2 linked regions of the Homo sapiens genome follow. The protein of the gene in region 2 interacts with the protein of the main gene of each other region in a pairwise test. Each region holds a gene or a part of one and is shown on either strand. Other genes may lie near its edges.

Region 1 (10,746 bases), on a different chromosome or scaffold from region 2:
TCAGTGGCACTTTACCATTCTCAGATCTTCTTTCTTGGGAACATCTGATTTATTCTCAAGTGCTATTTTTCACTGAAACTGTTCTCTATTTGAGATATTATCAAGTTTCAGAATCACAGCAATTCTCAGAGATGAGCCCAAAAGTTTTACAAATATTTCACCATAGTTAAAAATTTTTAAAGATCTGTCCTTTCATTTGTTTTCCTAAATTTACACTATAAGTAACATACTTTTTATATTTGAGATTTTGATTTCTCTTCAGTGTTTATTTTACTTAATTTGAACCAAGACTCAACTTTTCCACAGAAGAAATCTAAAAGGTTTCTCTGCTGCTGTTTCTGATCAATTGTTTCTCATAAATCCTACTGGCAAACTCTTCTGTCCCTCTAGGCCCTCAAATACTCTTTTCGGGTCCTCCTGGTGCTCCCCAAAGCCATTCCAGGTCCTTAGAAATGTCTTAGTCTAGATTAATTTCCTGGTTCTCAGTCCAGATACACAACCTCATGGGAAGAAACAAAAACTGCCACTTTTATCCATTCCAGGTGCTACGAAGAAAGAAAAGTATGTCAGAGAAATAAGGGAAATGGCTGGTATCTCAGTTATTCTTCCTCTTCTTTAGGGCAGAATCTGACTGGCCCATTCATTCCTCAACTACATAGAATTCTCTCTCTTTTTTTTTTTGAGACAGAGTCTTGCTCTGTCACCCAGGCTGGAGTGCGATGCCGCCATCTCGGCTCACTACAACCTCTGCCTCCCGGGTTCAAGCAATTCTCCTGCCTCAGCTTCCTGAGTAGCTGGGACTACAGGTGTGTGCCACCACACCCGGCTAATTTTTGTATTTTTTTGGTAAAGAGGATTTCACTATGTTGGCCAGGCTGGTCTCGAACTTCTGAACTCATGATCCGCCCGCCTCAGCCTCCCAAAGTGCTGGGATTACAGGCGTGAGCCACCACACCTGGCCCATAGAATTCTCTTAGGTCTCTCATCTAAAAACCCAGAAGAGTCAGACCACTGGTTTTCCTGTAACATTCATTGCAAGAAATGCCAACTATGAGTTATAGAGCATGGAGAAGATTACAAGAGAATATGGTAGTAATTAGGGGGTGGAGCCAATGGCAGGCTACGATCAAGCAACTTTCTAAATGAGGCAACTATAATTAAGGCAGTTAGTAAGTGATAACTCAGACATAAATCTTGGTTTATCTCTTTCACTTATAAATAGAAAAATAAAAAAGTATTTGCTAGCCAATAGCAGCACCATTAACTCAAGCTAGTCACCTAGCAAAAATATTCAGGCCACTATGACAGTTGTGTAGGTGTCTCAGAATTAATGTATTTGCTTTCAATGCTTCTCAGCTGTGCCGTCGTCTTTTTTTTTTTTTTTTTTTTTTGAGATGGGGTCTGGTTCTGTCGCCCAGGCTGGAGTGCAGTGACACAATCTCGGCTCACTGCAACCTCTGCCTCCAGGGTTCAGGCCATTCTCGTGCCTCAGCCTCCTAAGTAGCTGGGATTACAGGCACGCACCACCATGCCCCGCTAATTTTTATATTTTTAGTACAGACAAGGTTTTGCCATGTTGGCCAGGCTGGTCTCGAACTCCTGACCTCAAGTGATCCACCCACCTAGGCCTCCCAAAGTGCTGGGATTACAGGTGTAAGCCACTGCGCCCAGCCACAGTCATCATTTCTAAAACAGTGCCCAAGCAAGGGGAGGTGAAACCAAAAGGAAAGGCTCAAGGAATGTTTGTGGGCTTCAAAGGATAAGCCACTATGGCAGCAAACCTCACACAATGAAAATCACCAGTGCCTCTTATTCACTATTCACAATTTGTGCCTTGCTGCCTCTTTTTCCCATGAATCCCTTTTCCCTTTAACCAACTTCCTGTGTTATGAATCAGGCCTGTCAATGATATCCAAGGGCACTGCTTAGCACTGCTAGCAGAACTTCACTTATTCAACTTAATAAATTCTAATTATATATTCAGCATTGGGCCAGGTGATGAGAATCTTAATGCTGATGGCGCTACTGTCCACTGGTTCTGATAGACTGAGAATATTTACTGCTGAAGAAATGAAGTCCCAACCTGGCTGAGATTTTAAGGAAATGAACCTACTTAGACACAAATTCAAGTGACTTAGGCAGATGCTCATTATTAAATCTGTTTATCTTTCTCTCTCACTTAAAAAGGATCAAGATCTATGCCTAAGAGGAGTTACATACCATCCCATCCAAAAGCAAAAATAGCATAATGGCCTGGTAATGGCCTCTCATCTTCATTCTCACCTTAAACTTACCTTAGATGAACTGCCATAGAAAGCAGCTCAGTCCAAAACGCTCAAATGGTGCTCCAGGATTTACTTTTTTGTATTGTTTTGTTTTGTTTTTTGCGACGGAGTCTCGCTCTGTCGCCCAGGCTGGAATGCAGTGGCGTGAACTCGGCTCACTGCAAGCTCCGCCTCCCGGGTTCACGCCATTCTCCTGCCTCAGCCTCCCGAGTAGCTGGGACTACAGGCGCCCACCACCACGCCCGGCTAATTTTTTTTTGTATTTTTTAGTAGAGACGGGGTTTCACCATGTTAGCCAGGATGGTCTCGATCTCCTGACCTCATGATCCGCCCGCCTCGGCCTCCCAAAGTGCTGGGATTACAGGCGTAAGCCACCGCGCCCGGCCAGGATTTACTTTCTTAAATGCACTCTTTTCATTCCCATTCAAAGGACTCCAGTATAAGTGCCACATAAACTCGTTTTCTAACTTTTAAAACTCTTCCTCTAAATGCAGCCCAACTCAGTAAAAACGTACCTAAGATCTCACAGTCTAATGTTTCCAGCTTTTAAAGCCTTTACTCCTACCCTTCCCTCTGCCTGGAAAGTGTCTCCATTCCCTGCTGTGGACAAAATCCCTCAAGGTCTTTTATAATTTCCCCCAACCCCAAATCAACTTGGATTTTCTTGGAGTTCTCACAGCATTCAGTTTATGTCCTATTCTTACCCTTGTGTTACTGATATTCACGAAATTGCTCAGTCCTTTCAAGAGATTGCTTAAGGACAAAGACTTCTTACTCAACTCTGCAATATTGGCTACACATAGCTGACTTAATAAATAGTCCCTTGACTGGTATAAGCTGACGTTACAAAAACTGGTAATTCCGAAACCACTCATACTGGACTTATTAAATAATCCCTCAACTGGTACAGACTGACATTACAAAAACGGATTAATTCAGAGATCACTGAACACCCAAAACACTCAGATTCTTATAACTATGATTCAGTAAATATGTGTGGAATGCCTATCTTACCAGGTGACTATGTTAGGCGCTGCATGAGATATAAGATGAAAACAAGGTTCCCATTTTCCAGGGAAGAATACTGGAGTGGAAAACGCAGAGGATACCACAACAGGAGAGCTATTTCCGATTAGCGGCCGCCACTGCTGAGCTATGTGACCCTGAGCAAGTCACTTCTTAGGTCTCCGTTTCTCTGTCAAGGAGAGATAGAAAAAGAACCTATTTCACAGGTTCAAACCTACCTCAAGAAAAAATAGTTGTGGGGAATGCGTCACGAGACCTAGAAAACGGTACAAAACCCTCGGGGGGCCGCTGTTTCTGACCTAGCGAGTGGCCCGACCCGGACAAAATGCCTCTTCCTCGAGGAGGCGGCGACGAGCCCAGCAACAGCTCGAGCACGGCCGGCCGGGCCGCGGGAAGCCCGAGAACGCGGCGCGCGCAGCTGGGAGGCGACCCTTACCCGGCGAGGCTCCCGGGACCAAACGCCGCCCGACAGCCACGCAGAACAGACGCGGCAGTGCGACGCCTCCCCCACTGGGGACACGAGACAGCGACAGCCACGCGGTGAGCCGGTACAAGGCCCTCTAGGCTTCAGCGGGTCTGGATACTCGGTGGCATTAACCCTTCCCTACCGCCGGGGAAGACAGCAGTTTCTCTGGCGAGGAAGTAGGCCGGGCTCAGGCGCCTTAGCCAGAGGGCGGGCCTGCGCCACCCTCGGAAAGCGTCACTTCCACTTCCGGCCGGCGCTCTGGCTCTGTACCTGGACAGGGCTGCGGTAGGCCAGCGGTGGGCTGGCGGTTGCGCTCCTCAGATCGGCGGCCTTTCGGGCGGTGGCTTGCGTTTGAGCCTCAGAAAGCGAGGAGCGGCCTCCACGGAAGCCAAGCTGGCCGAGGTAACCGAGAAGCGGCTTCCCCTATGGCTTCGACCCTGGAGCCGCTGGAGCGGCGGCGGCCGCAGGGAGGCAGCCATTTTCCGTAGGCGGTGGCCGCGGCGCTTCCGGGCCGCGCGGCTGGAGCCTGAGGCGGGGCCACCGTCGGGCACGAGAAACCATTCTCTCCCCGCTTTTCGCAGCTGTATCCCAGAGGCGCGGCTGAAGCTCGCTGGGACACTGCCCGCTTGCCCAGTGCCCACGGGCACGCCTGTCGCAGACACAGGCTGTGGCGAATCCGAGTGCTGGCGGGCAGCAGTGCCTGCAGCTGCGCCCGCAGACTCTTTCCCGCCTCCGCCGGCATTTCCGTGTCCGGCCGATGTCATGCGGTCGGTTGAGCCTCAGGGCTAGCAGCTTCTACTGATGCAAAAACATAGGAAGTGTCTCTTTGCTTCTGGAACCGGGGTGGGCAGCAAGGAGCTGGCCACTTCTTTGAATACCGGTGGCATCCTGGGCAGAATTTCGGTGCCGTTTCTGCTGGCTCACTTCAGGAAAAGTGAGGCTCACGGCTCTCCTCAGCCCCCCTTAGAAGTCTAAATGACCTTTGGAGAAATACAAAGTCAGCAGAAAGTTTCACTTTCATCGTCACCAACTCCTGTTGGAGTTGATATTTCATAAACATCAGCGACAGAAAGAAAATACGACTTGATATTTTGTAAATAAAATATCCTTTTTTACAAGTTGATATTTTGTAAACAGAGGTCAGCTGTAATTTTCTCCAGATCAAGTAAGCACAGTTAAAAATTCATATAGGCCTGGCGCGGTGTTTGACGCCTGTAATCCCAGCACTTTGGGAGGCCAAGATGGGTGGATCACGAGGTCAGGAGATCGAGACCACCCTGGCCAAGATGGTGAAACCCTGTCTCTACTAAAAACACAAAAATTAGCCGGGCATGGTGGCACGCGCCTGTAATCCCAGCTAGTCGGGAGGCTGAGGCAGGAGAATGGCTTCAACCGGGGAGGTGGAAGTTGCAGTGAGCTGAGATCACGCCACTGCACTCCAGCCTGGGTGACAGGGCGAGACTCCATCTCAAAAAAAAAAACAAAATTCGTATAAATCATCTGCATGGCACCCTTTATGTGTGTTGCAAAGAATGATGAGCATCTTGTTGCTTACTTGGGAGACATTGTCTGAAAATAGGCTACTTTTTTACTTTCTGTAGTACCCCCTCCCCCCACTGTATCTGGGTTTCACTTACCCGCTGTCAACTGCCATCCAAAAAATATTAAATGGAAAACTCCAGAAATAAACAGTTCATAAGTTTTAAATAACTTTTTTTTTTTTTTTTGGAGATGGAATCTCGTTTTGCTGCCCTGGCTGGAGTGCCGTGGCACAGTCTGAGCTCACTGCAGCCTTCACCTCCCGGGTTCAAACAATTTTCCTGCCTCAGCCTCCTGGGTAGCTGGGACTACAGGCGCGCACTACCACACCTGGCTAATTTTTGTGTTTACAATAAAGAAGGTTTCACCATGTTGGCCAGGCTGGTCTTGAAGTCCTGGTCTCAGGTGATCCACCCACGTCAGGCCTCCCAAAGTGCTGGGATTACAGGCATGAGCCACGGCGCACCGCCAGTTTTAAATAACTCTTACTACAGTGTTTTATTGTTAATCTCTTATTGTACCTAATTTATAAATTAAGGTATCATAGCTATGTATACATAGAGAAAATAGTATAATGCAGTTAGATGCTGTTGGGGGTTTTAGGTATTCACAGAATGTACTGGAACTTACCCCCCTTGGAGAAGGGATACTACTGTATTTTGATCTCACCGTCTCAGCTCTTTTGCCAGTATTCCTACAATGGAAAATCTAAAATGTTGTTTTTTAAGGTGCCTTTATTTTTAGTTTTTAAATTAGAGACAAAGTCTTGCTCTAACTCCCAGGCTGGAGTGCAGTGATGAGGTCATGGCTCACTGCAACCTTGAATTCCTGGGCTCAGGCGACTCTCCCACCTCAGCCTCCTGAGCTAGAACTACTGGTGTGCTCTACCATCCTGGCTATTTTTTTTTTTTTTCTTCAAATTTTGTGTTTTGTAGAGACGGGGTCTCGCTATGTTGCTCAGGCTGGTCTGAAACTCCTGGCTCAAGTGATCCTCCCACCTCGGTCTCCAAAAGTGCTGGGAATGCAGGCATGAGCCACTGCACCTGGCCTAAAATATTTTTAAAGTGAAGGCTTCCATCTTCACAAGAGGATGAAGGGTCATAAAAGTTGTACTCCCCTTACTAGAGACAGACTGGGATGATCTGTTGAAATTTAAGAGAATCTCAGAATGTTTTCCTAATCTTATTTTCTCCTATTCTTTTCTTATGGGGAAGATGGGATAGGAGGCACACCAGTTAAATCCTTGGAAAATCCCAAAATACCTTTCAGCCAGTGGGTGCCAATTTTCTTACCCACCAATCTTTCCTAAATTGTTTTCTTTTTTATAAAAAAGACAGTTGTCCACTGACATTTGTGTGTTTTGTGCTGTGCTTCAGCTGAATAATAGAAAAGGAGAAAAACAAAGGGCCTGCTAGTTGATTTTGAAGGGAAGACAGGACACCTTTTCTGTTCTTCTTTCTCTCATAAGTCGCAAGTGATGAGGTTCATGTGAGTTTCTTATTGATACATACTTTTCTTTTTCTTGTCCTCAGTGCTTTTAGGAAGAAGATCCTTTTATTGCTTTTGTACAAGACCAGACAGGATCTCATTTGTTAAACGTGGTACCAATTGGGTGTCTTAACACAGGAGCAGAACTTCCTAGAGCAGAATGATGATGGTAGATCTGAAAGTGGCTGCGTACTTGGACCCTCAGATCAGGGCTTTGTGGGAGACCAAGGGGCCTGCAAGAGAGAGCTCCGGTCAGAGTAAAAAATCTCCTCAAATGGACTGTCTCGATCCTAAGAGCTCTTGCTGGCACTTCCGGAATTTCACCTATGATGAAGCAGGTGGACCCCGTGAGGCTGTCAGCAAACTTCAAGAATTATGTCATCTATGGCTGAAGCCAGAGATCCACTCAAAAGAGCAGATACTGGAACTGCTGGTGCTGGAGCAGTTCCTGACTATTCTGCCCAGGGAGACACAGACCCAGATGCAGAAGCACCATCCACAGAGCATTGAGGAGGCTGTGGCTCTGGTAGAACACTTGCAGAGGGAATCTGGTCAAACATGGAATGGGGTGAGAAGAAAGATTCCTGACATGTACAGTGAAATAGGATGCAGGTGGATATAGTAGAGATGGTGGCAGTTAGTTGAGAAATTAGATGGATTAGGTAGGTCATTGTTTGGTTTTTTTTTTAAGGACAGTTAAGGTGGGACTTGAAACTACAGGCCCACAGAAAAGTTCACAGGTTTCAGAGATTGTGGTAGATACTTCCCTGGCCTTAGAGAAAGAGAGTTGCTTTTGCCCTCTTTGGAGCCAGGGTGAATTGAGGGTGTTGGGCCTAGTCTGGCTTGGCCAAGGAGACAGGACTTAAGTACTTAGAAACAGAATAAAAGGTAATAAAGAGTCAGGGAGGCTGGATGCAGTGGCTCACACCTGTAATCTCAGCACTTTAGGAGGCTGAGGCGGGTAGATCACCTGAGGTCAGGAGTTCAAGACCAGCCTGGACAGCATGGTGGAACCCTCTCTCTACAAAAATAAACAAATTAGCTGGGCATGATGACCGGTGCCTGTAATCCCGGCTATCCTCGAGGCTGAGGAGGGAGAATCATTTGAACCTGGGAGGTTGCAGTGAGCCGAGATCGCACCATTGCACTCCAGCCTGGGCAACACAGCAAGACTCCATCTCACAAAAAAAAAAAAAACAAAAAAAACAAAAAAAAAACGGGCCGGGTGCAGTGACTCACACCTGTAATTCCAGCACTTTGAGAGGCCAAGGCAGACAGATCCCCTGAGCCCAGCCTGGGCAACATGGTGAAACCCCGTCTCTACAAAAAACATGAAAATTAGCCAGGCATGGTGGCACACACCTGTGGTCCCAGTTACTTGGGAGGCTGAGTCAGGAGAATCACCTGAGCCCAGGAGGTGGAGGTTGCAGTGAGCTGAGATGGCACCATTGCACTCCCTTGGGTGACAGAGTGAGAACCTGTCAAAAAAAAAAAAAAAAGGCAGATCCACAAGGAGAACACAGGAAAACAAGGACACTTAAAGAAAAGGAGAAATTGGCCAGGTTCGGTGGCTCATGCCTATATTTCGAACACTTTAGGGGGTCGCGGTGGGAGGACTGCTTGAGACCAGCCTGGGGAACATAGTGTGACCTTGTTGCTATGAAAAAAAAAAAGAAAATAAGCCAGGCTGATGGCACATGCCTCTAGTCCCAGCTTCACAAGAGGTTGAGGTGAGAGAATTGCTTGACCCAGAAGTTTGAGGCTACAGTGAGTTATTATTGCAGCATTGTACTCTGGCCTGGGCAACAGAGTGAGACCTTGTCTCTTAAAAAAAAAAATGTTTTAGGCCAGGCGTGGTGGCTCACATCTGTGATCTCAGCACTTTGGGAGGCTGAGGCGGGCGGATCACAAGGTCAGGAGTTCAAAACCAGCCTGACCAACATGCTGAAACCCTGTCTCTACTAAAAATACATAAACTAGCTGAGCATGGTGGCGTGTGCCCGTAATCCCAGCTACTCAGAAGGCTGAGGCAGGAGAATGGCTTGAACTCGGGAGGCAGAGGCTGCAGTGAGCTGAGATTGCACCACTGCACTCCAGCCAGGGCAACTGAGCGAGACTCCATGTGAAAAAAAAAATGTTTTTAAAAATTAGGAAAAATCCAGCCTGGGCAACATGGTGAAGCTCAGTCTCTACAAAAAATACAAAAATCAGCTGGGCATGGTGGCGTGTGCCTGTAGTCCCAGCCACTCGGGAGGCTGAGGTGGGAGGATCACCTGAGCCTGGGGAGGATGAGACTGCAGTGAGCCATGATTGTACCACTGTACCCCAGCCTGGGTGACAGAGTGAGACCCCCGTCTCAAAACAAAACAAACAAACAAAAAAAACAACTAGGGGAAGACTGCACAAGAAAAGAAAACATAGAAAAAAGGGAAACAAAGATTTGGAAAAAAGAAAAATCCCAACAGAATAGCCAAGGACAGGAAATGCACTGATGGGTAATGTCCTCCCTATAGTAGATGAAAGTCTCTACTGCCTTCCCTTAATGCTTGTTCCTTGGCTCTGCTGACAAGTTGGGAGCCAGGGTATGAACTTGGTGGGTGGCGACACATCTGCTGACCTCGGGTCTGCTGGGAAGAATACAGGGCAGGACCTATGTTTGGTGTCAGAATCATCTGGAGGTAGGTTGGAGCCACTCCCCTTTTTTCTCCATTCTATCCCCATTCTCTGAAAACCTTCGCTGGCTATAGGGATAATCAGGCTGACAGGAAAACTTTTAAATTCATTTATTTGAATTTTAGAGAAAACTAGAAGACAGAAAACCACAACTGTGGGATTGAAGTCAACAGAAAAGGCCTGACAAGACAGTATTAGAATGAGTGGCCTGCCTGGCTGGGCACAATGGCTCACACCTATAATCCCAGCACTTTGGGAGGCTGAGGTGGGCAGATTACCTGAGTTTGGGAGTTTGAGACCAGCTTGACCAACATGAAGAAACCCCGTCTCTACTAAAAATGCAAAAATTAGCCAGGCGTGGTGGTGCATACCTGTAATCCCAGCTACTTGGAAGGCTGAGGCAGGAGAATCACTTGAACCCAGGAGGCAGAGGTAGCAGTGAGCCGAGATTATGCCTTTGCACCCCAGCCTGGGCAACAAGAGCAAAACTCATCTCAAAAAAAAAAAAAAAAATGAGTGGGCTGCCCAACCCTGCCAGTGGCCTGACCTAGACCGTATACAGAGGAGTAGAAGCTGCTGTGTTAAAGGGCTGGCAGGCACCACAGTTTGTTTCCTTTCACCCTAGTTTTCTCATATTTGTGTATAGTCATTTGTGGAGCATTGGTGGCCCAGTATCTCTTTAAGCCTTTTTTTGTCATTTTTTTTAGTGTCTTATACTACCCACAATGTGGGCTGTACACCTGTCGCTCTGCCTCCACCCCCACAAACCAAAAGTAAGTTCTGTGGTAACAAGGATGGGAATTATTTCTAGGTTGCAGTCCATGAGCTGGGAAAGGAGGCAGTGCTCTTGGGAGAAACAGCAGAGGCCTCAAGTTTCGGGCTGAAGCCAACAGAGTCCCAACCAGTGGGCGTATCCCAAGATGAAGAATTTTGGAATACATACGAGGGTCTGCAAGAACAGCTCAGCAGGAATACTCATAAAGAGACTGAGCCTGTGTATGAGAGGGGTAAGGAGCTTCATGATAATTTTCTTCTCCTGGGAGCTGTGATAATAGTTTATTCACCCAAAATGTCATGGGCATTTTTTGAATACCCTGCTCTGTGGATTTGTAAAACCAGCCTTGATAGCAACTATGATGTCCTTCCAGGCAGCAGTAGAAATGCCAACTGTGGATGAAAGTGGGAGTAGGCCTAGAGAACAGAAATATCTAAACCACAGAACTCTTGGTAATAACAGTGTGAACTCTGTTCCTTAGACTAGTGGAGAGG
Region 2 (10,159 bases):
TCAGCCCTGGGCTGGAAGGGGTGGTTGACAAAGAGTAATAAGCCTCTTGCCCCAAGAGACTTTGTGCTTGGACATTTGCCCTTGTAACAACACTGATGATAGCTGGTAGGGTCCCAGTTTTCAGATGGAAAGGCTGAGGCTCAAGTGGCAGGCACATTGCCCCGGGGCGGTTTCTGGACTCAGCTCTCCAGGCCTCAGGACCCCACCCTGAACCTGCTGATACCCTTGTTTGTCTCCAGCCCACCCCAGCCAGACCAGGGCCTCCCGCCGCCCCTTGCAGCTGTCCCGGTCCCCTGGAAGAGCACGGACCCCTGCCAAGGCCACAGGGAGTCCCCAGGAGCCCTGGTGGAGACCTCTGCAGGGGAGGAGGCCCAAGGCCAGGAGGGCCCCGCAGCCGCCCAGCTGGACGTGTTGCGCCTGCGCAGCTCTTCCATGGAGATCCGAGAGAAGGGCTCCGAGTTCCTGAAGGAGGAGCTGCACAGAGCGCAGAAGGTGGGTGCCTGCAGTAGGCTGGGGGGTCTTCGGTGGGGAGAAGTCAGGTTGGGAGAGCTGTGGGCTCTCATCAGGTGCCCAGAGATGTGCCCAAGGGAGAGGGATGTGCCCTCACCGAGGCCAGCTGCTGGCCAGGCCTGTACTGGGCGCACCGATGGTCACCCGTCTTGACTGCAAACGTGCCCTGAGCTCTGATGAACTGGCAGGCAGGGCTTCAGCTTCATGCTGTGGCTAAACGGAAAAAGCATCACAAACTGTCAGGCACCAGAGGAAATAAACTCTGAGCCCCACATAAAATGACGAGGGGATGGAACCTGGTCCGGTGGGCCTGGTCCCTCCCGTGCCAGGCCTGGGGATGCTGAGGTGCTCAAGTGCCTGCCTCTTTTCCTCCAGGAGCTGAAGCTAAAGGACGAGGAATGTGAGCGGCTGTCCAAGGTGCGGGAGCAGCTAGAACAGGAGCTGGAAGAGCTGACGGCCAGCCTGTTTGAGGTACACCGGCTGGGCGCGGGAACAACTTGGGGAATGGGTCATCTGGGCGTCCGTTGGCTCCTCACCACTCACGCAGGGACTGCCTTCTTCCTAGGAAGCTCACAAGATGGTTCGAGAAGCCAACATGAAGCAGGCGGCATCAGAAAAGCAGCTGAAGGAGGCTCGGGGCAAGGTGAGGCCCATCCCCGCCTGCCCAGGCCAGCCCAGGCACCCCCCCTGCCTCCCGGCTCAGCGAGCACTGAGCTTTGCTGCCCGAGTGGACGCTCACCTGGCCCGGTGGGGCCAGCAGGAATGGGTGAACCTAGGCCCAGGGAGGGAAGGGAAGGGTGGGGGTCTGAGATCACAGGGCCCAGTGTCCCGGGGCTCCATCAGTGATTCTGCTGCATGGCAGAGCCTTTTCTGGGATAGTGCTGGGGCTGGGAGGACCCTGTGATTATTGTACCTTCTTCCCTCTCCTCCCAGCCCCACTTTACAAAGCAGAAACCTCACTCAGTATGGCTGTCTGAGCCTGGGCAAGTCGCTTCCTCTCTCCAAGCCTGGTTGCCCATCTGCAAAATGTGAGGCCTGGGCCTTTCCTGGCTCCTGGGGGCGGTCCCAGAACTCTCATGGGAGGCCCAGCCAGCTCCCAGACACTTGTTCCTAACAGAATCCTGCTCACAGAGTGACCTTGGGCAGGCCATGTCGCCTCTGTGAGCCTCAGTTTCCCTATGTGTAAAACGAGTGTCTGGGTCTCTGCCTCGAAGGCTGTTCTGAGGGCGTCGGGTGGGACTAAGTGCCTGTCACTGCAGGGGTGCATTGTCCTGAGTTAGGCTGATAGGCGGTGGCAGCCAGGATGGCATCCAGTCTGGGTGAGGGTTGACAGCCATCCCATCCCATGCAGATCGACATGCTGCAGGCAGAGGTGACAGCCTTGAAGACGCTGGTCATCACGTCCACACCAGCCTCTCCCAACCGCGAGCTTCACCCCCAGCTGCTGAGCCCCACCAAGGCCGGGCCCCGAAAGGGCCACTCTCGCCACAAGAGCACCAGCAGCACCCTCTGCCCCGCCGTGTGTCCCGCTGCGGGACACACCCTCACCCCAGACAGAGAGGGCAAGGAGGTGAGGGTGGGAAGCGGGCTCTGGGCACGGGGAAGGGTGGCAGTGCCTGCGGTAGGCAGGGTCCGAGCCCAGTGAGGACCAGCCTGCCCCATGCTGTGTGACCTGGAGCCTGTCCTGCGCCTCTCTGGGATGTGAGGGCTGGGCAGGTCCTTTCTCTCCAACCTCCTGTGATCTGAGGCACTTGGCCTGCAGCCTCCAGGGTATACCATCTGGGGACCTGAGGCCCCCTCCCTGCCCCACTGACTCCAAGCAGTAGGTAGTGGTCTCTGCACCTGAGGCTGGCTTTGGCCCTGAGGATCTGGGGCCTCCACTGAGACACACACTTCCTTGGCCTTAAGAGGCCAAGCAGCAGCCACTGGGCCTCAGGGGAGAGGCTGCCTGGACCCCGTGTGGCCACAGCCTCGAGCCCCAGGACCACCTGGTGACAGCCCTGTGCTCAAGGGGTTTCTGGCACCCTCTGACTGTGGGGCTGAGACAAGCGTGGCCTTTGGAGAGGTGTCTCCGTCCCACCTCAGCTGGCCACACCAGTTGCTGGGCCCAGGCTGGGCTGACACTCATGGTCATGGGTCTGTAGGCAAATGAGGCCACCTGTCAGCACCTCAGCTTTCTCACCTGATAAATGGGGCCTCCCGGGGCTGCTGGAGGAACCAGAGACAGGGACATCAAGAGCTGAGTTCAAGGCTGCACCCAGGTAGTGCCTCAGAGGGCTGTGGTGCCTTCAGCTTCCTGGGTCCCTGGCGCCAGCCCACTCGACTCCATCCTGGCTTCCACCTCTGTCTCCAGGGCCTCCAGGGAAGACGAGCAGGCCCTCATCCACCTCCTGAGCTCTGAGCTTCTGAATGTACATTAACTTCTCCCCTTCCTCCTGTTCTGTCTCTGTGCACCTGTCTACCTGTCTGTCTGTCTGTCTGTCTGTCCATCCGGCCCAGCCCGGGCTGGCCCCGCTGCTCTCCCTGCTCCTCTGCGTGGTCCCCAGCAAGGCGGTTCACCTCACCTACGAGCCGGCCTGGCCGCTCCCACCTGGGGAGCCCCCAGCCCCTGCCTCCACTCCCTCTCCCTCCTTTTCCCGACAGGTAAATGGCTCCAAAGAGGGGCCTCCCACTTTGCCCCCTCCCAGCCTCCCTCATTCTGCATGTGGCCTGGAGCAGGCCAGCAGTCACCTCTGAGGTGTGGGCCCAGGGCAGCCTGTGTGTGTCCCCTCCTGTGTGCACGTGCTTGTGTGTGCTTGTGTACCTGCTGGTACCTGTGGCCTCCTGCTAGTTGCTCTTTGACTTTTCCTCCTCAAGGAGGCACTGAGGGTCTTCAGGACAAAGCCCTGCACCCCACTCTAAAATCCAGTAGCGCCAAGAAATTTAACACCGGCCTGGAAACAAAACTTTTAGTTCTAAATTCTTTGGTGCAAAGGGCAGAAGGGAGCTCTGCTGCTGCTGGACTTGGCTTCCCTGCACGGCTGCTGGGGATCGACCTGCTGGCTTGCTGGGCCTGCCCCACGTCCTCCCTCGCTCCCCTTCAGCTCAGCCTGCATCTTCTATGCTGGCCCCAGTACCCTGACCGCCCCCACCCTCGCTTGCCCTCCCCCACAGGTGGACACAATCCTGTTTGCAGAGTTCCAGGCCTGGAGGGAATCCCCCACCCTGGACAAGACCTGCCCCTTCCTGGAAAGGGTGTACCGAGAGGACGTGGGCCCCTGCCTGGACTTCACAATGCAGGAGGTGAGGCATGGCAGGGGCGGGGCCAGCTGGGGGACACACCCCTCCGCCAGGGCCCAGCCCCTTACCACCCTGCCTGCCTCCCTGGTCTGCCACAGCTCTCGGTGCTGGTACGGGCCGCCGTGGAGGACAACACGCTCACCATTGAGCCGGTGGCTTCGCAGACGCTGCCCACAGTGAAGGTGGCCGAGGTTGACTGTAGCAGCACCAAGTAAGCTGAGGGTCTTAGCTCCTTCCTGCCCATGTGGGAAAGCCCCGCCAAGCCGTGTGTTTACTGTGCCGAGGGGTGGTCAGGATGCAGCAGCGCCGACAGGACAGGGACAGTTGCTGCCCCCACAGGGCAAGGAGGCAGTTTGGCAGGTTTCCTGTGGACCCCCAGGCTTTCCAGAGAGGCCGGGAGCTAGGGTCTGCCTCTTCCTGACTGGTCTGCTCTGTGCCCTCCCCTTCTTTTCTTGAACCATGATTATCAGTTGCTGGCTGTGCCCCTGCCAATAAATAACGACGCAGTAGCCCTGGCATTTGTCCTCCAGCTACTCACCTGGCATTGAGCAGGGGAGCAGCAGAACAAAATAGCCAGGGTGGAGCAAGGGGCAGAAATTGGGGAGGATTTCACCTTGGCAGCCAAGAGCCTGGCTGGGGATGGCTGGTGCCCTGGTGGGAGGCTCATCACGGAGAGGGAGCATTTGAGCCAGGTTTTGAAGGATGAATAGAAGTTTGCCAAGCAGGGAAGGGCATTTCAGGCAGAGGGAACGGAATGTGCAAAGGTGTGAGAAGCTGGAGTATTAACGGAAGCACCACTGGGGCATCTGGCTAAGCAGTGGGGGGACAGGGAATTGGGGTGGAGGCTGCAGAGGCTGTTGGGGCCAGAGTATAAAGAGCCTTCACAGGTTTGGGCTTTAACCCACCAGCCAGTGCGGCAAAAGTCATCAATAGGCCGGGTGCAGTGGCTCACACCTGTAATCCCAGCACTCTGGGAGGTTGAGGCGGGTGGATCACTTGAGGTCAGGAGTTTGAGACCAACCTGGCCAACATGGAGAAAACCCCATCTCTACTAAAGATATAAAAGTTAGCCGGGTGTGGTGGCACACGCCTGTAATCTCAGCTGCTCGGGAGGCTGAGTCAGGAGAATTGCTTGAGCCTGGGAGACGGAGGTTGTGGTGAGCTGAGATTGCACCACTGCACTCCAGTCTGGGTGACAGAGTGAGACCCTGTCTCAAAAAAAAAAAAAAGTCATCAATAGCTGCCACCTGAAAAGAGGCTCTCTGGTCCATCAGAGAGTCCCAGTGAACCAGGAGGCAACAAATGCTCTGATAAGTCCGCAGCCAAGGAGCTTTTTAAACCTTCATTTATTTGGGATTCTCCCCATTTCTTGGGAATTAGGAAAGCAAGAGAGAAAGATGATGGGTTAGATGTGGGTTTTTGGAGGAGCCCTGGCTCTGATGTGGAGAAGAAAGAGAGCGATGAGGCAGAGAGCTGGCCAGAAGGAGCCAAGGGGATGCAGGCCAAAAGTACTGCTGCTGTGCCCTGGCCTGGGGACTTGGTGACCAAGCAGAGGGTGAGGAGGAGAGAGCCGAGCAGATGATGGCCAGTGAAGAGCAGGTTTGGGGAGTGGGGCCCAGATGGGGGTTGCTCAGGGCCTGTGGAGACCCTTCATGTGGGTGGCTGAAGATGCTGAGCGACGTCATGCAGGACTGGGGGGAGGAGAGAAGAGGGCATGGGAGAAGGCTCTTAGACGGGGTTGGTTGGCATGCGGCTGAGAACCATGGGGGTTAGTGGGGTCAGAAGGCCTGCATGGATGAAGCAGGGGAGCTGCTGGATGTTGGGAAGCGGGAGGCAGCCAGACCTCAACTCTGGCCTAGTTGGGGGAGGAGTGCCTGGTCTGAGTCCCCAGAAGTAGAGGGAGAGGCATATGCAGAGCCTGCAGAGGGTGGGACTTTGTACACCTGGCATGAGATTAACCAAGCTCTCTTGCCCAGTAGGGGCAAAACAAGGGTTCTAGGGGTACAGCTCAGCTTAGTTCGAGGTCTGTCCCAGGGATGGCTGGGGCCAGCTCCCTTCTCTGCCTGGCTCTGGGTTCCTTTGGAAGCCGGGTGGGGGAAGGGAGGCCTGCCCCTCCCCATGCATCCTCTCAGCTGCTGCATCTTCCCTGTATGCAGGGGTGAGGGAGAGGGGCAAGCCCCAGCCAGCCCCCGTGACCCATTTTGCTTTCCCCTAGCACATGTGCCCTGAGCGGGCTGACCCGCACCTGCCGCCACCGAATCCGGCTCGGGGACTCCAAAAGCCATTACTACATCTCGCCATCTTCCCGGGCCAGGGTGAGTCAGCCTTTGCAAGCGTTACTTGACTCCTTTGGGGCCACCTGGGTGCTGGGACACTGGGCCCTGGGCCTGGGAGTATGAATAGCACTACACCTTGATTTACTTATTTTATTTATTTATTTTTTGAGACAGAGTCTTTGTCACCCAGGCTGGAGTGCAGTGGCACAATCTCAGTTCACTGCAATGTCTGCCTCCCAGGCAGACATTAGCAATTCTCCTGCCTCAGCTTCCCAAGTAGCTGGGATTACAGGCATGTGCCACCACGCCCAGCTAATTTTGTATTTTTAGTAGAGATGGGGTTTCACCACGTTGGCCAGGCTGAACTCGAACTCCTGGCCTTAAGTGATCTGCCTGCCTCGGCCTCCCAAAGTGCTGGGATTATAGGTGTGAGCCACCACGCCCAGCCTTACATCTTGATTTACAGAGCAGGGTACAGGCTCAGAGAGGCGCAGAGACTGACTCGGGCCACACAGCCAAGCCAAGGGCAGTGGTTTGCTATTACGGTGTAACAAATTACTATCAACCTGGTAGCTTAAAATAGCGCAGTTCCCCATGTTGGAGTCTAAGCACTACTTACTTACTGGATTCTCTGCTCAGGGACTTGCAAGGTCGCAGTAAGCTGTCAGCAGACTGTGTTCCTTTCTGGAAGTCAGGGTCCTCCTCAAAACTCACATTGTTGGCAGCATTCAGTTCCTTGTGTTTGAAGGACTGAGGCCCCTATTTTCTTGCTGGCTGCTGGCAAGGGGACACCCTCAGCTTCTAGAGGACACCCGCAGTCCCCTGCCACAGGGCCTTGTTGCACAGGGCAGCTGACTTCAGAGCCATCAGGAGGGCCACTCTCCAGTCGGCTGAGATGCAGCCTTATGTATGAAATGTCATGGGATGACATCGCCCCCCTCTGTCATTCAATGTCACCTAATCCAGGAGTGATGCTAGAGTTCCAGTTAGAGTGCGGGGCTCCTGACGCCCAGACTCAGGTGCTGGCCGAAGCTTTGGAAAAGGTTCAGCGGTGCGTCTGGTGCACCAGCCTTAAGTCGGCCGTGAGTGCCAAGGGGCCTCTAGGAATCCCAGCTCCCACCCTCCCCTGCCGAGTGACCCAGACCAGGACAGGGGTTCTCACCAAGCTGGGGATTGAGGACAGGGATTCCTCTTCCTCTGTCCCTCTGTTGACTCTTAAGAGGATTGAGGGGAACAAGAGAACATGTTTGGAAACACGTTTCCAGTGACACAGCTTGAGGAACCATCTCAGGCCTGCTAGAGGCTCCTCGCAGGGGAGCAGGTCTAAAGGGGACAAATGGTCCCTTTGCTGGCAGCAGACTATACTGTCCTTGATGAACTCCACAAGGCATCCGAGCGTGAGTCCTCCCAGCGGTGTGCTGAGCACCCATTTACCAAAAGGGAGGCTGAGCCTTGGCAGAGGAAAGGGGTGTGTTCAGGGCCACACACCGAGACCTGGGATCCTGGCTCTGAGTCCACTGCAGCCCCTACCCTGTGGATTTGTGCCCACTGAGCCTTGTTCAGTGGCCACTTATCTCCATCACCGCTTTCCAGGCCCAACCATGGCTCAACAGCAGGCCCCACAAAAGATGTTCCCGTGCTCAACAATGTCACCTCTAGCACTTTAAGTCCCTGGCCTGGGTGTCCTGCTGCACTGGATGAAGCTGGGGGTGGGAGATGAGGTGAGGAGGGTCTGAAGTTTTAGGATGTGGTCCCTGCCCTGAAAGACCAAGACATGTGGGGTCCACAGGGAGAAGTGTTTTCTCCCTAGCACACTCCCTGGAGAGGGAAAGCCCCCTCCCTGCTACTCCCTGCTCATGAGCCTCTGTGGGCATCCACTGTCCCTGCTCCTGTCCTGAGCTCTGCCCTGCCCCACCCTCCTGCCGCAGCCTCTCCTCAACCCTCCCTGTGCAGCGGTGTCCCTGCCACGACGGGCTGGTCCCCCGACCTCGCCCCGCTCTCTCGCACCTCCCTATCTTTGCCAGGCCACCACCGTCCCGCCCCTCCCCGAAGCTTCTCCACTCCCCAGCCTGCGGGTGCCCCTCTCACTTGATGTCCCTCCCCAGGAGTGTTGGACATTCAGTAGGGGCTGTTGCGGGCGGGCACAGCCGCCGGCTACCTTCCACCCTGTCTTAGGCTGGGTTCCGAAGAGGCAGAGCCTCACCTGGAGATTGTGTGCAGCTCCCAGGAGAATGAGGGAAGGGACGGGGGAGTCCAGCCAGGATGTGGCCTTAGCTACAGCCCAGCTTCAGCCCCATCCACCGGGCTCTTAGCAGAGTTGATTCCACCCTGAGGCAAGGGGACTGTCCTTTCTATCTCCACACAAGTCAGTCATCGGCTGAGGTCTACAGGAGGAGTGAGTACAGAGGGGGGCACCTCTGAGCCATTAGTGCCCCCACTCTCAGCAGCTGGGAGATGGGGCCCGGGCCTGGGAAGGGGCCCTGGGCCAGGCACCAACAGTACCCTCTCCGTGGTGTGAGTCCTCATAGCAGTGTCTGAGCCAACACAGGGTCCCCGGGGCCTGGCATGGAGCAGGCCTGAGGCCCCAGGGGCCCCGGGCAGCCCAGGTGAGCGGCTTCTGACCCCCTTTCCTTTCCCAGTGTTATCAGTAGCACTGGACTGAGGCCTGGCTGGCCCAAAACTCCAGCATCTGGAGCAAGCCGGCCTGTGAGAGGGCGAGTGTAGACTCCGGGACAGCCTGCCCGGTTCATCTCACAGCTCTGCTGCATGCTGGTTCATTAGCTCCGCCATCTCCGTGATGGATGTCAGCGGCTTTCCCCGGGTGGCTCCGCTTTCCCCCATGTAAGATGGAATAATAAGCGCGTCTGCTCCGTTCGCTGCAGGCGCTTGATGAAATGGCTGCTGCTGCTGCTGCTGCTATTACAGCAGGGCTAGTCATGCTGTTGTTGATTACTACTTGAAAGCCCAGTCCCAGCTGAGTCAGGGAGCACTGCCTGGCTCTGCAGGGACCTGGGGCCTCCTGCTCTGGACTCAGATCCGCCTGTCAGGGGACCCCCAGCGTGGGGCTGGCAGGTCACACCGTCCCCACCTCTGCCCACAGATCACCGCAGTGTGCAACTTCTTCACCTACATCCGCTACATCCAGCAAGGCCTGGTGCGGCAGGACGGTGAGCGCCCCCTGGTGGCCGGTGCAGGGATCGCACACGGGAGTGGGGCTGGATGGGGAAGTGCCCTCTGGGCCCACCTGCCCCTAGTGGAGGCAAGACTCAGCTAGGAGGCTGGGGAGCGGGGAGGGTTGTGGTTTAGTAAAGCGTTCACAAACTTCCTGGGTGCTGAGCTCTGTACCTGAGTCCGTCCGGCTGGTCTTTCTCCTGTCCCCAAACCTCTCCCGGCCCCGCACAAGGGGGCCACCCCTGTGAATCTCTCCCTGGCCCTGGAGGTGGTGGCCCCTCCTCCTGGTCACCTGAACACAGGGTCACCCACCTCCAGCCTTTGCTCCCACTCCACTCCATGCTGGACAGGGCCTCCCTCCACCCCCTCCCCCCACAGCCCATTCTGCAAGGCCTGGCTCCCCGCTCCTCCACCAACCTTTGCTCGCTGCTGAGTCTTCTCCTGAACCAGTCTGGCCCGACCCTCTGAGTAAGGAGCTATCTCCTCTCCATCCTGGGGGTCAAGTCCTCTTGGAGGCCAAGGCCAAGGCATGCTGGGTGTTGACACCTGCTAGGTCCCTGGATGGCCGCTGTGGTCCCCGCCTCACTGCGCAGGGTCCTTGTGAGACCCCAGGGAGGCATCTGTGCCTTGTCTAATGTAGTTCCCAGGTCTGGACCACCGCTGTGGCATGTGACAGCGTGTACCTGCTTGTCTGCGTCGGGCTGTGGGGGTGGCCGTCAGTGTAGTGCAAACAGATCCCTCGGGTGTGGTCGGCACTCAGCAGTTTCCAAGGCTCAAGAGTGGAGCCTCAGAGAGGTCCAGCCACTCACTGAGGTCATCTGTTTTGGGGGCCGGGGACCCTAGGGTGCTGTGCCAGCTGCTCTGTCCAAAGCCACAGGAGGGGACCTGGCCATCTGCCCGAGGTGACCCTGAGCTGTCCCCGA

The links.
Region 1: the proteins of RAB3IL1 (region 2) and TIGD7 interact in binary tests that used the Homo sapiens proteins (3 or more experiments, as listed by UniProt).

Annotation. Positions count from the first base shown.
Region 1 is NC_000016.10:3,301,465-3,312,210, forward strand, and holds the start of TIGD7 (tigger transposable element-derived protein 7), read right to left. Parts: upstream 3,967-10,746; 5' UTR 3,748-3,966; intron 546-3,747; 5' UTR 1-545. Other genes in the region: ZNF75A (zinc finger protein 75A), read left to right, coding at 6,965-7,372, 10,289-10,484.
Region 2 is NC_000011.10:61,898,387-61,908,545, reverse strand, and holds part of RAB3IL1 (guanine nucleotide exchange factor for Rab-3A), read left to right. Parts: intron 1-239; coding exon 240-492; intron 493-885; coding exon 886-981; intron 982-1,075; coding exon 1,076-1,153; intron 1,154-1,443; coding exon of another isoform or gene 1,444-1,538; intron 1,539-1,861; coding exon 1,862-2,080; intron 2,081-3,663; coding exon 3,664-3,792; intron 3,793-3,887; coding exon 3,888-4,000; intron 4,001-6,004; coding exon 6,005-6,104; intron 6,105-9,165; coding exon 9,166-9,232; intron 9,233-9,614; coding exon of another isoform or gene 9,615-9,871; exon of another isoform or gene 9,872-10,159. UniProt on the Homo sapiens protein: Guanine nucleotide exchange factor (GEF) which may activate RAB3A, a GTPase that regulates synaptic vesicle exocytosis. Promotes the exchange of GDP to GTP, converting inactive GDP-bound Rab proteins into their active GTP-bound form.